Linked DNA regions of Homo sapiens: regions 1 and 3 are each reported to be linked to region 2. The links are microRNA targets in miRTarBase. Many come from high-throughput screens and were not tested one by one. Region 2 holds a microRNA gene; each other region holds the end of a gene's coding sequence.
What was found. The annotated mature microRNA hsa-miR-3913-5p reads UUUGGGACUGAUCUUGAUGUCU and lies in region 2 at 1,383-1,404, shown strand. An mRNA with a match to its seed (bases 2 to 7 or 8) in the 3' UTR can be bound and repressed. Matches are read on the target gene's strand: a 7mer-m8 pairs with bases 2 to 8, a 7mer-A1 pairs with bases 2 to 7 and ends in A, and an 8mer does both.

Region 1 (4,054 bases), not on the chromosome of region 2:
AGTTTTTGTATTTATGGTAGAGACACGGTTTCGCCATGTTGCCCAGGCTGGTCTTGAACTCCTGAACTCAAGTGATTCACCTGCCTCGGCCTCCCAAAGTGCTGGGATTACATGCGTCAGCCACTGCACCCGGCCTCAGTCTTTTCTTCTATGCGGCACAACCCTGGCATGCATAGTGCGTACTTACACAGGTTTTGTTGCAGTAGGTTAACTTATGTCCCTTGAAATGTAATTGCCAACTACACTGACAGAGTCCTAACATAGTTTATGACGTGGCTTTGGAGTTCCCAACAACAGTGACACGTGGGAACCACTGTAACGACCTGTAACAAATGACTCCCATAGGTCACTTTGCAAGGTGGTGAGTATGAGGCATGGCAGGGGTCATAATCTCAGGAGACTTCAAGGGCCCCACCGCTTGCACATCTGTGAAGCAGGCTGGTCATGATGGGAGCTGAGCGCTGAGCATGTGCCCTGTGGAAGGACATTTTAGTTCAGATGCCAGCTGGCCCAAGCCCTTTTTGGAGCTAACCTTGTCCCCTTGGCCTCCAGTGTGTGAGCCCTCGTTAGCTGTTTATCCCAATCAAGCTGTGTCTGGCTGTGCACTATCCAGGCCTCCACATTCTGTGACAAACTAACAGGGCCGGCTCCTGTCACTCCTGTTCTCGCCAGCGGGTTTTACCCTGAAGGTGACTCAGGCCTTCTCTTTGCCCTAGATCGTGGGGATCATCACACGGCACAACCTCACCTATGAATTTCTGCAGGCCCGGCTGAGGCAGCACTACCAGACCATCTGACAGCCCAGCCCACCCTCTCCTGGTGCTGCCTGGGGAGGCAAATCATGCTCACTCCGGCGGGCACAGCTGGCTGGGGCTGTTCCGGGGCATGGAAGATTCCCAGTCACCCACTCACTCAGAAAGCCGGGAGTCATCGGACACCTTGCTGGTCAGAGGTCCTGGGGGTGGTTTTGAACCATCAGAGCTTGGACTTTTCTGACTTCCCCAGCAAGGATCTTCCCACTTCCTGCTCCCTGTGTTCCCACCCTCCAGTGTTGGCACAGGCCCACCCCTGGCTCCACCAGAGCCAGAAGCAGAGGTAGAATCAGGCGGGCCCCGGGCTGCACTCCGAGCAGTGTTCCTGGCCATCTTTGCTACTTTCCTAGAGAACCCGGCTGTTGCCTTAAATGTGTGAGAGGGACTTGGCCAAGGCAAAAGCTGGGGAGATGCCAGTGACAACATACAGTTCATGACTAGGTTTAGGAATTGGGCACTGAGAAAATTCTCAATATTTCAGAGAGTCCTTCCCTTATTTGGGACTCTTAACACGGTATCCTCGCTAGTTGGTTTTAAGGGAAACACTCTGCTCCTGGGTGTGAGCAGAGGCTCTGGTCTTGCCCTGTGGTTTGACTCTCCTTAGAACCACCGCCCACCAGAAACATAAAGGATTAAAATCACACTAATAACCCCTGGATGGTCAATCTGATAATAGGATCAGATTTACGTCTACCCTAATTCTTAACATTGCAGCTTTCTCTCCATCTGCAGATTATTCCCAGTCTCCCAGTAACACGTTTCTACCCAGATCCTTTTTCATTTCCTTAAGTTTTGATCTCCGTCTTCCTGATGAAGCAGGCAGAGCTCAGAGGATCTTGGCATCACCCACCAAAGTTAGCTGAAAGCAGGGCACTCCTGGATAAAGCAGCTTCACTCAACTCTGGGGAATGCTACCATTTTTTTTCCAAAGTAGAAAGGAAGCACTTCTGAGCCAGTGACCACTGAAAGGTATGTGCTATGATAAAGCAGATGGCCTATTTGAGGAAGAGGGTGTCTGCCCTTCACAAACACCTCTCTCTCCCCTGCACTAGCTGTCCCAAGCTTACATACAGAGGCCCTTCAGGAGGGCCTCCTGTGCCGCAGGGAGGGTGCGTGGGGAAGATGCTTCCTGCCAGCACGTGCCTGAAGGTTTCACATGAAGCATGGGAAGCGCACCCTGTCGTTCAGTGACGTCATTCTTCTCCAGGCTGGCCCGCCCCCTCTGACTAGGCACCCAAAGTGAGCATCTGGGCATTGGGCATTCATGCTTATCTTCCCCCACCTTCTACATGGTATTAGTCCCAGCAGGCATCCCTGGGGCAGACGTGCTTTGGCTCAAGATGGCCTTCATTTACGTTTAGTTTTTTTTAAAACCGTGGAGGTTGCCCACGGGCCTCGGCACCTGGCCCTGGCAGCACAGCTCTCAGGCCCAGCCCTGGGCGACCTCCTTGGCCAAGTCTGCCTTTCACCCTGGGGTGAGCATCAGTCCTGGCTCTGCTGGTCCAGATCTTGCGCTCAGCACACTCTAGGGAATAATTCCACTCCAGAGATGGGGCTGCTTCAAGGTCTTTTCTAGCTGATTGTGGCCCCTCCATTTTCCCCATTTTCTTATCTCCCTGACCAAAATTGCTTTGACTTCTAAATGTTTCTGCTTCCCAGAATGCACCTGACTTATGAAATGGGGATAATACTCCCAGGAAATAGCGCAGGACATCACAAGGACCAAAAAGGCAATTCTTATTTAAATGTTACTATTTGGCCAGCTGCTGCTGTGTTTTATGGCAGTGTTCAGAGCTTGATCACGTTATTTCTTCCTTTTATTAAGAAGGAAGCCAATTGTCCAAGTCAGGAGAATGGTGTGATCACCTGTCACAGACACTTTGTCCCCTCTCCCCGCCCCTTCCTGGAGCTGGCAGAGCTAACGCCCTGCAGGAGGACCCCGGCCTCTCGAGGGCTGGATCAGCAGCCGCCTGCCCTGAGGCTGCCCCGGTGAATGTTATTGGAATTCATCCCTCGTGCACATCCTGTTGTGTTTAAGTCACCAGATATTTTGTTCCCATCAGTTTAGCCCAGAGATAGACAGTAGAATGCAAATACCTCCCTCCCCTAAACTGACTGGACGGCTGCCAAGGAGGCCCCAAACCCAGGCCCCATGCAAAGGCACGTGGTTTCCTTTTCTCCTCTCTCTGCATCTGCGCTTTCCAGATAAGCCCAAAGACAGCAACTTCTCCACTCATGACAAATCAACTGTGACCCTCGCTCCTTCCATTTCTGTCCATTAGAAACCAGCCTTTTCAGCATCTCACCCATTAGCAGCCCCATCACCCAGTGATCAGTCGCCTCAGTAAAGCAGATCTGTGGATGGGGAGCCTACGGGTGGTAAGAAGTGGTGTTTTGTGTTTCATCTCCAGCTTGGTGTTCCATGGCCCCTAGGCGAGGTGATCAGGGAGTGGGGCCAATGGGCCCCCGGCCCTGGCTTTGGGACCTTGTGCTGAGGGATGATTTGCTCCTGACCTTGATTAACTTAACAGTTCCCAGCTGGAAGGGACACTTTCAGGACCCAGTCCACTGTATGGCATTTGTGATGCAGAATTATGCACTGACATGACCCTGGGTGACAGGAAAGCCTTTCGAGAGGCCCAAGGTGGCCTCGCCAGCCCTGCAGTATTGATGTGCAGTATTGCACCACAGCTCTGCGGACCTTGGCCATTGCCGCAGTCGCAGCTTCCTTTTTTCTGTTTGCACTGTTTGTTTGTATGATGTTAGCTAATTCCACTGTGTATATAAATTGTATTTTTTTTAATTTGTAAAATGCTATTTTTATTTGAACCTTTGGAACTTGGGAGTTCTCATTGTAACCCTAACATGTGAGAATAAAATGTCTTCTGTCTCCTCTGTCTCCTTTAGCCTTTTGTCTCCATGCTGCTTTCTTTCTTTCTTTCTTTTTTTGAGACAGAGTCTCGCTGTCACCCAGGCTGGAGTGCAGTGGTGCCATCTCAGCTCACTGCAAGCTCCGCCTCCCAGGTTCACGCCATTCTCCTGCCTCAGCCTCCCGAGTGGCTGGGACTACAGGCGCCCACCACCATGCCTGGCTAATTTTTTGTATTTTTGGTAGAGATGGGGTTTCACCATGTTAGCCAGGATGGTCTCAATCTCCTGACCTGGTGATCCTACCCGCCTCGGCCTCCCAAAGTGCTGGGATTACAGGCGTGAGCCACCACGCCCGGCCCTGCTGCTCTTTC
Region 2 (4,067 bases):
GGCTGCCTCTAGCCTCAGTTCCACAAGGTGGCAGGGCCTGCCTCCTTCTCCCCATCCAAATGCCTCTGGCTACATTCAAAGCCCAGCAGGGAGCAGTCATTGGTTTCCCCATCACACACAGTCTCAGGCTTGCCTACCAGAGGACATAATAAATATCTCCAGGTATGTAATTTTGCCCACAATAAAAACAACCTTTTTCAATATTGTGCAGGCATCTTAGTTTTTTATTGTGAATCTTCTCATTCCAGAATGCGATTTGGGATCTGCCTAGGAAAGTACATTTCCTGAAAGAAGACCAAATTTTCCTACAAAGAAGAGAAAACTCTTGGGAGATTTAAAATAACAATTTGTCCAGCCTGAACTCCCCTTTTCATGTTGGACCTGAGGAATACTGTAAACCAGGGTCAGCAAACTTTTTCTGTAAAGAATTAGATAATACATGTTTTAGGTTTTGTGGGCCCATTCAACCTGTCATGACTACTCAACTCTGCCACATAACTCTGCTATCGTATTGTGACAGAGTAAATATGTATGGGTATGCCCATGGATTCCAATGAAGCTTTATGGACACTGAAATATTAATTTCACAGGATTTTCATGTGTCAGGAAATTTTTGATTTCTTTCAACCACTTAAAAATGTAAAAACTATTCTTAGCTCTCAGGCCATACAAAAAACAACTGGCAGGCTGGGTTTGACTCCTCACAGCTTGCCAACCCCTGGTGGAAATCAACCCACTTAGAGGAAATCTGAAGGGTAGAAACAACTAAAAAATTGAAAATTCCTGTTAATGTTAGCAATGTCAAAAATCCAGGAGACCCCAGCTACTCAGGAGACCAAGGCAGGAAGATTGCTTGAGCCCAGGAGTTCCAGGCCAGCCTGGGCAACATAGAAGACCCCATCTCTAAAAAAAACAAAACAGAAAAAGAAAAATCCAGGAGCTTGTTTTGTTTTGTTTTTGTTTTGAGACAGAGTCTCGCTCTGTTGCCCAGGCTGGAGTGCAGCGGCGTGATCTCGGCTCACTGAAACCTCTGCCTCCCGGGTTCAAGCAATTATCCTGCCTCAGCCTCCTGAGTAGCTGGGATTACGGGCATGCACACCACGCCCGGCTAATTTTTGTATTTTCAGTAGAGACAGGGTTTCACCATGTTGGCCAGGCTGGTCTCCAACTCCTGACCTCAGGTGATCCGCCCACCTCGGCCTCCCAAAGTGCTGGGATTACAGGGGTGAGCCACCGCGCCCTGCCGAGGAGCTTAAGCGATCAGTTAGTCAAAGGGAGAAAAGAGGGTATCAGTAGATGACAGAAAAATTTTTTAGAGAACAAATTTTTAGACATCCGTCAACTTAGAGAAAGTAGAAAACTGTCTATAATAAACTGAAATATTTGGGACTGATCTTGATGTCTGCCAAGGTTTTGGCAGACATCAAGATCAGTCCCAAATATTTCAGTTTATTATAAACAAAGACTAATAAGTCGTCTCTACTATTGGAGGAAAAAAAAAAAAAAGACCGAAATGCAAAAATTCCTGAAAATGAGTAAATAGGGCAAAGATAAAATACTATAAATGTCTCTCTCAGTTCACAAGACCTTATCCTGGGCAGTCAACGTCCAGTTAGAAATAACGTCTGAAAATTCAGTAAGAGAAAAGGAAGTCTTCTTCTGTAATACTCAGTAAATAATGTTTAAAATTAACATAGCAATAATATTATCTGGGAATATGATAGTAAATAGCCCCTCCAAAAAACTGAAAAAGTTGAAAGCAGTTTTCCTGGAGACAGGAAGTGGTGAGGCAGATAAATTATGTTTTTCCTTATTGGTATATAACACTTTAAACTGTGTACATGTGTGACTTTAATAGAAGTGTTTAAAGATTAAATTTAAGAAAATAAAAAGTGTGAGCAAGAACTCCATTTCTATGGCAACCCGCGCGGCAGCCGCCTCTTTGTTCTGGAGCGGCGGCCACGCCCCCTCCAGTGTGAAAGGCTGCGTTTCCGGCCCGTGGGGCTCCAATCAAAATGGGACGCCTGCTGGCGGTAACGACAGGCCGGGGCCCCGCCCCCCGAAGTAGGGCGTGTGGCGTCACTTCCGGCTTCCTTCAGTCCGCTGGTCCCGAGCACGAGCTGTGAGGGGATTCACTTGTGTGCGGAACTCCTCGGAACCATGGTGAGCCTGACTCCCCTGCCTCTTGCCCTACCCCTGCTCCGCCGTGCTCTTGCCACCCCACTGCTTCCTCTGTCCTGCTAGGGTCGTAGGCTCCGTTTCTGTCTCCCCGGCCCTCCGCACATGGTGCGAGCCATGCGCGGGGCGTGCGGCCTGCGCCAGGCCAGCCGGTGGAGCTCACCACGAGGGGGAGGGGTGGACCGCAAAGCCAGCGTCTCCTTGTGCCTAGGTCTTTGCATAGTCCCGGCAGCCCAGGTCCGCGCCTCACCCGGAGCGAAGAAATTTCTAGTGTGGGACCCGCTCCGCCCTCCTTCTAGGGGCGGAGCCTGGAGCGACGGGGTCTGAGCCATCAGAGGGTGGAGGGGCCGCAGCCTTCCGAGGGTGGAAGATGGAGGCCGCGTTCCCTCGCCCGCCCGGCAGGCGTCACCTTGATGGCCTGCAACCCCTCCCTGCCTCATTCTTAGTTCAAGATCGTCTTTAGTCTCGCTGTACGTAACTGTCAATCTCGCTGGTGTATAATTTATACTCCCGGGGGCCTTGTAAATCCGAAAAGCCATGTCGCTCTCCTACAAGTCCCTCTCTCCCACTTAAATGCTTTCTCCGATGATGGAAGCTTCATTTGATTGAAAACATTGTTGTAAATGAGTTTTCTCTTAGATGTCCACTTGTAAGACTAGTGGAAGGCACCTCAGTGTATGTGTTAGAGTATTGGTACTTAAACGGAATGCCTCTTGGTTTTCCTTTTCAGGCGTCCCTTTCCCTTGCACCTGTTAACATCTTTAAGGCAGGAGCTGATGAAGAGAGAGCAGAGACAGCTCGTCTGGTAAGCCTTGTTCTAAGCATTGTTTTAAAGATAAAACTGGAGGCCAGGCGCGGTGGCTTACTCCTGTAATCCCAGTACTTTGGGAGGCCGAGGTAGGCGGATGAACTGAGGTCAGGAGTTCGAGACCAGCCTGGCCAACATGGTAAAACCCCGTTTCTACTAGAAATACAAAAATTAGCCGGGCGTGGTGATGGGCACCTGTAATCCCAGCTACTCGGGAGGCTGAGGCAGGAGGATCGCTTGAACCCAGGAGGCGGAGGTTGCAGTGAGCTGAGATCGCGCCATTGCACTCCAGCCTGGGCGACAGAGCGACACTCTGCCTCAAAAAAAAAAAAAAGTAAATAAAGATAAAACTGTACTTGAAGACTGTAAAGTTGATTCTGATAATCTCCTTGGTTTTTACTCCAGACTTCTTTTATTGGTGCCATCGCCATTGGAGACTTGGTAAAGAGCACCTTGGGACCCAAAGGCATGGTAAGAAAAATAGAAAAGTTTTATATTTTAATATTGTTTTAGAGCGCTTGGTGGAAATATAATAACAAGCGTATTAAAATGCTTTTTAATCTTTAAAACGTTTAATTATAAAAGACAAGTATGTTCTCCTTAGTAAAAATCAGAGTCCCCAGAATCACCATCCCCAATCCCATGCCCCTCCCCAATGACAAGTACTGTTATCATTTGCACGTACATCTTCTAATATTCTGTTTATGTAGAAGTATGTGTACTTCATTATGTATTTTATACTCATGTAACATACTGTTTTATAAAACAGATACTATTTATCAATACTTTTTTGTAGCTTGCTCTTTTAAATTCCTTTCAGTGTAAGTAGATAACACTGCCCCTTTAACTGTCAAATATTATCCTGTACCTTAATTATTTTATAATTTAATTATGGCTGTATTGATAGTTTCTTTCCATTGTTTTTGCAGTTACGGTGTTGAAACAAAAACTAGTGTCTACCTGTGCTTCTAGTGTTTCTAGGGGTAGATACATGGTTTGGTTACGTGGTGTATGTATTGAAAACATTTGATGAATGGATACCACAAAATAGCTATCCAGAGTGTTTATACACTAGCACTGT
Region 3 (4,054 bases), not on the chromosome of region 2:
AAAATGAGCTGTTGTGAAAATGGGCATGGTCCCCTGAACTGACCCGGGCTCTAGCATTTGGGAAAGAGGGAAAGAAGTGCACAAAAGAGAAGGATAGTGACTGCGGAGGAAGCCAACGCCAGAGTCTCACCGGATGGATTTTTTAAAGGGAGGACGGGGAGAGGGTATAAATCCATACCACCAGTCCCTCTTCCTTTTTACCTACAACTTAGGCTATCCTATTGTTATTTCTTTTCTCTTGCCCAATGGCTCGTGGTGATCCAAAGAGTTTAAATCACGTGGATCAGCAACAAGTGGAGGAGGAAACATAGGGTAGCACGTGGCGACTTATCCTCAAGCCACCCAAAAGGACCTAGCCAGGGGCAGGAATGGGAGAGTGCTGCGAGAGGGCAGCAAGCTCGGCCAAAGACTGAGGCTCTGGGAACCGCAGGAAGAGGTCGGAGGCTGGACCCGGCGGGAAGGATGGCTGCGGAATGGCGAAGCCACGACCAGGACCGGGTGAAGGAGCCTGGCTTCTCGGGAAGGCAGCGGGAATCGCCGCAGGCTGCGGGAATGGCGGAGAAACGAGGACGCCCCCCAGGAAACTCACTTTCTTGCTCAGGTAGAAGAACATCGTGGGATCCCCGAGAGGGTCACGGCGGCCGCTAAGGCCCTCGACAAGTAACGGTTCTACGTCTCCAATCGGGAGTACCAGCAGCTCCGGAAAGCTCCCGTCGCCCTGGCAACCGCTGTTGCCCGGTCGCATCCGGGGCGCCGCGGGACACTTCCGGTGACGCCCTCGCACCGGGCACCGGCGTAGTGCGCCTGCGCGGACGTCGATGGGTTTGTGGGCGCAGGGCGCGAGGCGCGAGGCGGTAGCTGGGCTAGTCCTGTTCCCTGGCGTCTGGGCCTTTCTGCTCTCCGCAAGGAGCTGGGTCGCGACCTGTCACTGCCAGCCGTGCGCTCGCCCTCTGCGCCCCGTCTCGTGGTCACTGCCGCCCTCCCTCCCGCCACACCTGTGATGATCGCTATGGAGCCGCGCCTCAGGTGGCATTACTATAAACCTAAGAGGAGAGGCGCCCGTTCGAATAAGGGCAAATTATTTAGTATTTTGTAAGTTCCAAAGTTCCAACATTCTTGAAAGGGAAAAGCCATTTACTGTATTTGATAGGCTGGCGCCACTGGCCAGATGAAAGTGCAAATGTGCGTACTGAGATCTTACAACCCTTCTCTGTGTCTTTGGGGATTGGAGAACCTCTAGAGCAATTTAGGAATAGAAGATTTTGTTTATTCCGCTTGTTTTGATATTTTTTAACAGTTTAATTATTACCGCAACCCCGAGGGTCCTTTTAAAGGAATTTCTGTAAACGTTGGGTAATTACAGCGTACAATTGCTATTGGGGCATGGCCTCCCATTTTACAAATATTTGAGCGTTTGGTGTTTTCTCGTCTAGAGTCGACTGTTACATATTCTCTTCTTTTTCTTACCTTCTTTCTTCATTCTCCTTTGTCCTTTTGGAATGCTTGAGAGTTACAAAGCCTCAAAGTCTAAGGCATAGGGCAGAAATCCAAGTAGAACCACTCATGAAATTATTTGGTCTCACCTATGTTTTTATTTCTGGTTTTCCCTTTTACCATAATCTAGCATGTAATTTATGCATCAGTAGTTAATTTCCCCACTTGGAGTCTTTTCCCATCTCAGACAAAAATAAAATAAAAATCCTCCAATCCTTTGACCTGGGTGATTTGTCTCACCCAGCACAATCTATTATAGAATTGACAATAGTCCCTAGTGCCTTTCCTAGCAAATCTAAACTCCATCCAAAATCAGATCTTCCCTCAATCCTAAATGTTTTTACTAGGGAGCCCCCACCTCAAGTAAGCCAATATGCTTTCTGCAGGGCAACATTCCATCCGGCTCTGCTTCCCAAGCCACTTTATATATGGTCCTACCCTCTTAACAGGCCAGTTGTGCCTAGCCAAACCAGCACAAATCAGTCTCCATGAGGAATTCTTTCCAAACTTAACCCAATCCCATTCAGATAATGTTTGCTTTCCATTGTTTGTGTGTCTGTTTAAGATACATTGGCCCCTGTCCATAGGCTCCCTATACTGGACGCATGAGACAAATTAGTATTATCTAACCCAGGAGTTTCCAATAAACTGGTCAAGACATAATTAGTTGAAGCTAGTTACTGATGGTGACACCTGAAAACTCACCTCTCTTTATCTTTCCCTTCTTGCACATGAACTCTCATTTATTCCTTCTATACCACCATTTCTCTGTGGTATATTAATATGTATTACTGATTTTGGGCTCAAAAAAGTCTGGAAAATACTACTGTAGCTCTATGTCATACCCTTTCAAAATTTTTGAAAAGTAAGAGATGCTTTATATATTTCCTTGGTATATTTAGTTTTTGTTCCTTCCTTAAAGTTTATATTTTATATTTACATCTGTAGGATATATTTGCTTCTCAGGAGCTTATATTAATGTAAAGCTCATCATTATTTTATCCAAATTTAGATAATTTTATATTGAAGCCTTTCTTTTGAACCTGAACTTACACTTTTAGCCTCAGGAGTGTGAGATTAAACTATAGGAGGAGAATCAAACTTCTGTCTTTTGATAAGAAACTGTTGAATATCAAAATAACTGTTAATTCAGTATAATTTAAAGAAATATCTTTAATAGACAAAATTGATGAGTCATCAAAAATAGACATGATAATATGTAAAGGTAATAACTTTTATTATATTAAAGACAATGCAAACGAAAAACAGAATTGAGCAGTGCAAAATTTAAAGGACTGTTTTGTTCTCAAAGTTGCAAGTTTCAAAGCCAAAAGAATTATATGTATCAAATATATAAGTAAAAAAAAGTTAGACTTTCAAGCCTGTAATCCCAGCACTTTGGGAGGCTGAGGCAGGTGGATCACTAACATTAAAAAGACAACATTAGATTTTGTCGATTTATAGCAATTTTATAAATATATAACTTTGTCACTTGGATCCTGAAGCAAAATAATAAAGTGAATTTGGGATTTTTGTACTTGGTAAAAAGTTTAACACCCTAAATTCACAACTAGTGCTCTTTAGTAGTACATTTCTTTCAAAGACCAGAATGAATTAAAAATGGCAATGTAATGTTCACTTGATCTGTGTTAACTATTTTTAGATATGTGTATTACAATCTATTGATCACATCTTCAATAATACTCCAACAAAATAAGCAAAAAACAAAAAGTGTTAAACAGTTCAAAATTACATTCATCTCAGTTATATGAAGTTGTATGTGTAAATACCTTGTACAATTTGCACTCTCAGTAATAAGATTGATTTATATTATAAATACTATCAAAAGAAACTAGACCTAAAGTTTCCATTGTGAATATGGTTATCTAATATAAACATTTAAAAATTAAATGGCTCAATTAGTAGATAAAGAAACACTAAACTTTTCATTCTATTTCCTACCAATCATTTCACAGTCATAACTTAGAGACACTAAAGTTTGCTCTTAATAAGTATCTGCATATGTATTTCCTTGGAAGAATCATGCTGATTCTGCAGAAGATCTTCATACAATTTATCCAGTAATATTCAAGCATTAATACAGATAATGGCAAATTATTAGCAGGAACATTGGCAATAACAGGTGTGCAAAAGAATGCATGAGTATTAAGTACACCAAGCTGTCCACATTTTCAGGTGAGAAATTGGAGCAATTTAACGATGTATTTGTCCATATTCATTTATTTTCAACTTCTCCAAAATGTCATCAAGTGGCAAGTTGTTAAGGCCAACACCATTTATTTTTACACATTAGAAAATATAAACACACTTTCAAACACTTCACAAGATAAAATAATTATGTCCTATGAGAAGTGAAAAAAAAGAGCAAAACTGTTTTCTCACCAAAAGTTGAATTCAGTCTAAAAGTCAAAAATCCTGTTCTTCAGAGAGCACAATAAAAGTAGACCCCTGCAGTGGTCTTCAGATGTTTTTGTTCATATAAAATGTAATTGGAGTAGCATCTTAGTGTGAGGGATGGGGGAAGCAGTGTTTATGAAGT

Region 1: the mRNA of CLCN6 is a reported target of hsa-miR-3913-5p. Seed matches in the 3' UTR shown: 7mer-m8 at 1,867-1,873.
Region 3: miRTarBase lists MATN3 as a target of hsa-miR-3913-5p. Seed matches in the 3' UTR shown: 7mer-A1 at 3,017-3,023 and 7mer-A1 at 2,892-2,898.

What each region holds. Positions count from the first base shown.
Region 1 is chr1:11,839,427-11,843,480 of GRCh38, forward strand. CLCN6 (chloride voltage-gated channel 6) reads left to right here. Exons shown (of 23, transcript NM_001286.5): 23 at 717-3,704. The coding sequence ends at 797. It also overlaps NPPA-AS1. Among named protein-coding and RNA genes, the nearest start is that of NPPA, 6.3 kb to the right of the region's middle.
Region 2 is chr12:69,583,362-69,587,428 of GRCh38, forward strand. It overlaps MIR3913-2 (microRNA 3913-2), which reads left to right and starts at 1,362; the gene lies at 1,362-1,461. CCT2 (chaperonin containing TCP1 subunit 2) reads left to right here and starts at 2,098. Exons shown (of 16, transcript NM_006431.3): 1 at 2,098-2,163; 2 at 2,909-2,983; 3 at 3,392-3,457. The coding sequence starts at 2,161. MIR3913-1 (microRNA 3913-1) reads right to left here and starts at 1,462; the gene lies at 1,361-1,462. RefSeq lists an enhancer at 2,129-2,468.
Region 3 is chr2:19,989,403-19,993,456 of GRCh38, forward strand. MATN3 (matrilin 3) reads right to left here. Exons shown (of 8, transcript NM_002381.5): 8 at 2,650-3,764. The coding sequence ends at 3,709. It overlaps WDR35 (WD repeat domain 35), which reads right to left and starts at 703. Exons shown (of 27, transcript NM_020779.4): 1 at 590-703. The coding sequence starts at 613. WDR35-DT (WDR35 divergent transcript) reads left to right here and starts at 802. Exons shown (of 3, transcript NR_110235.1): 1 at 802-1,092. RefSeq lists enhancers at 434-483, 500-1,003, 634-683 and a silencer at 844-923.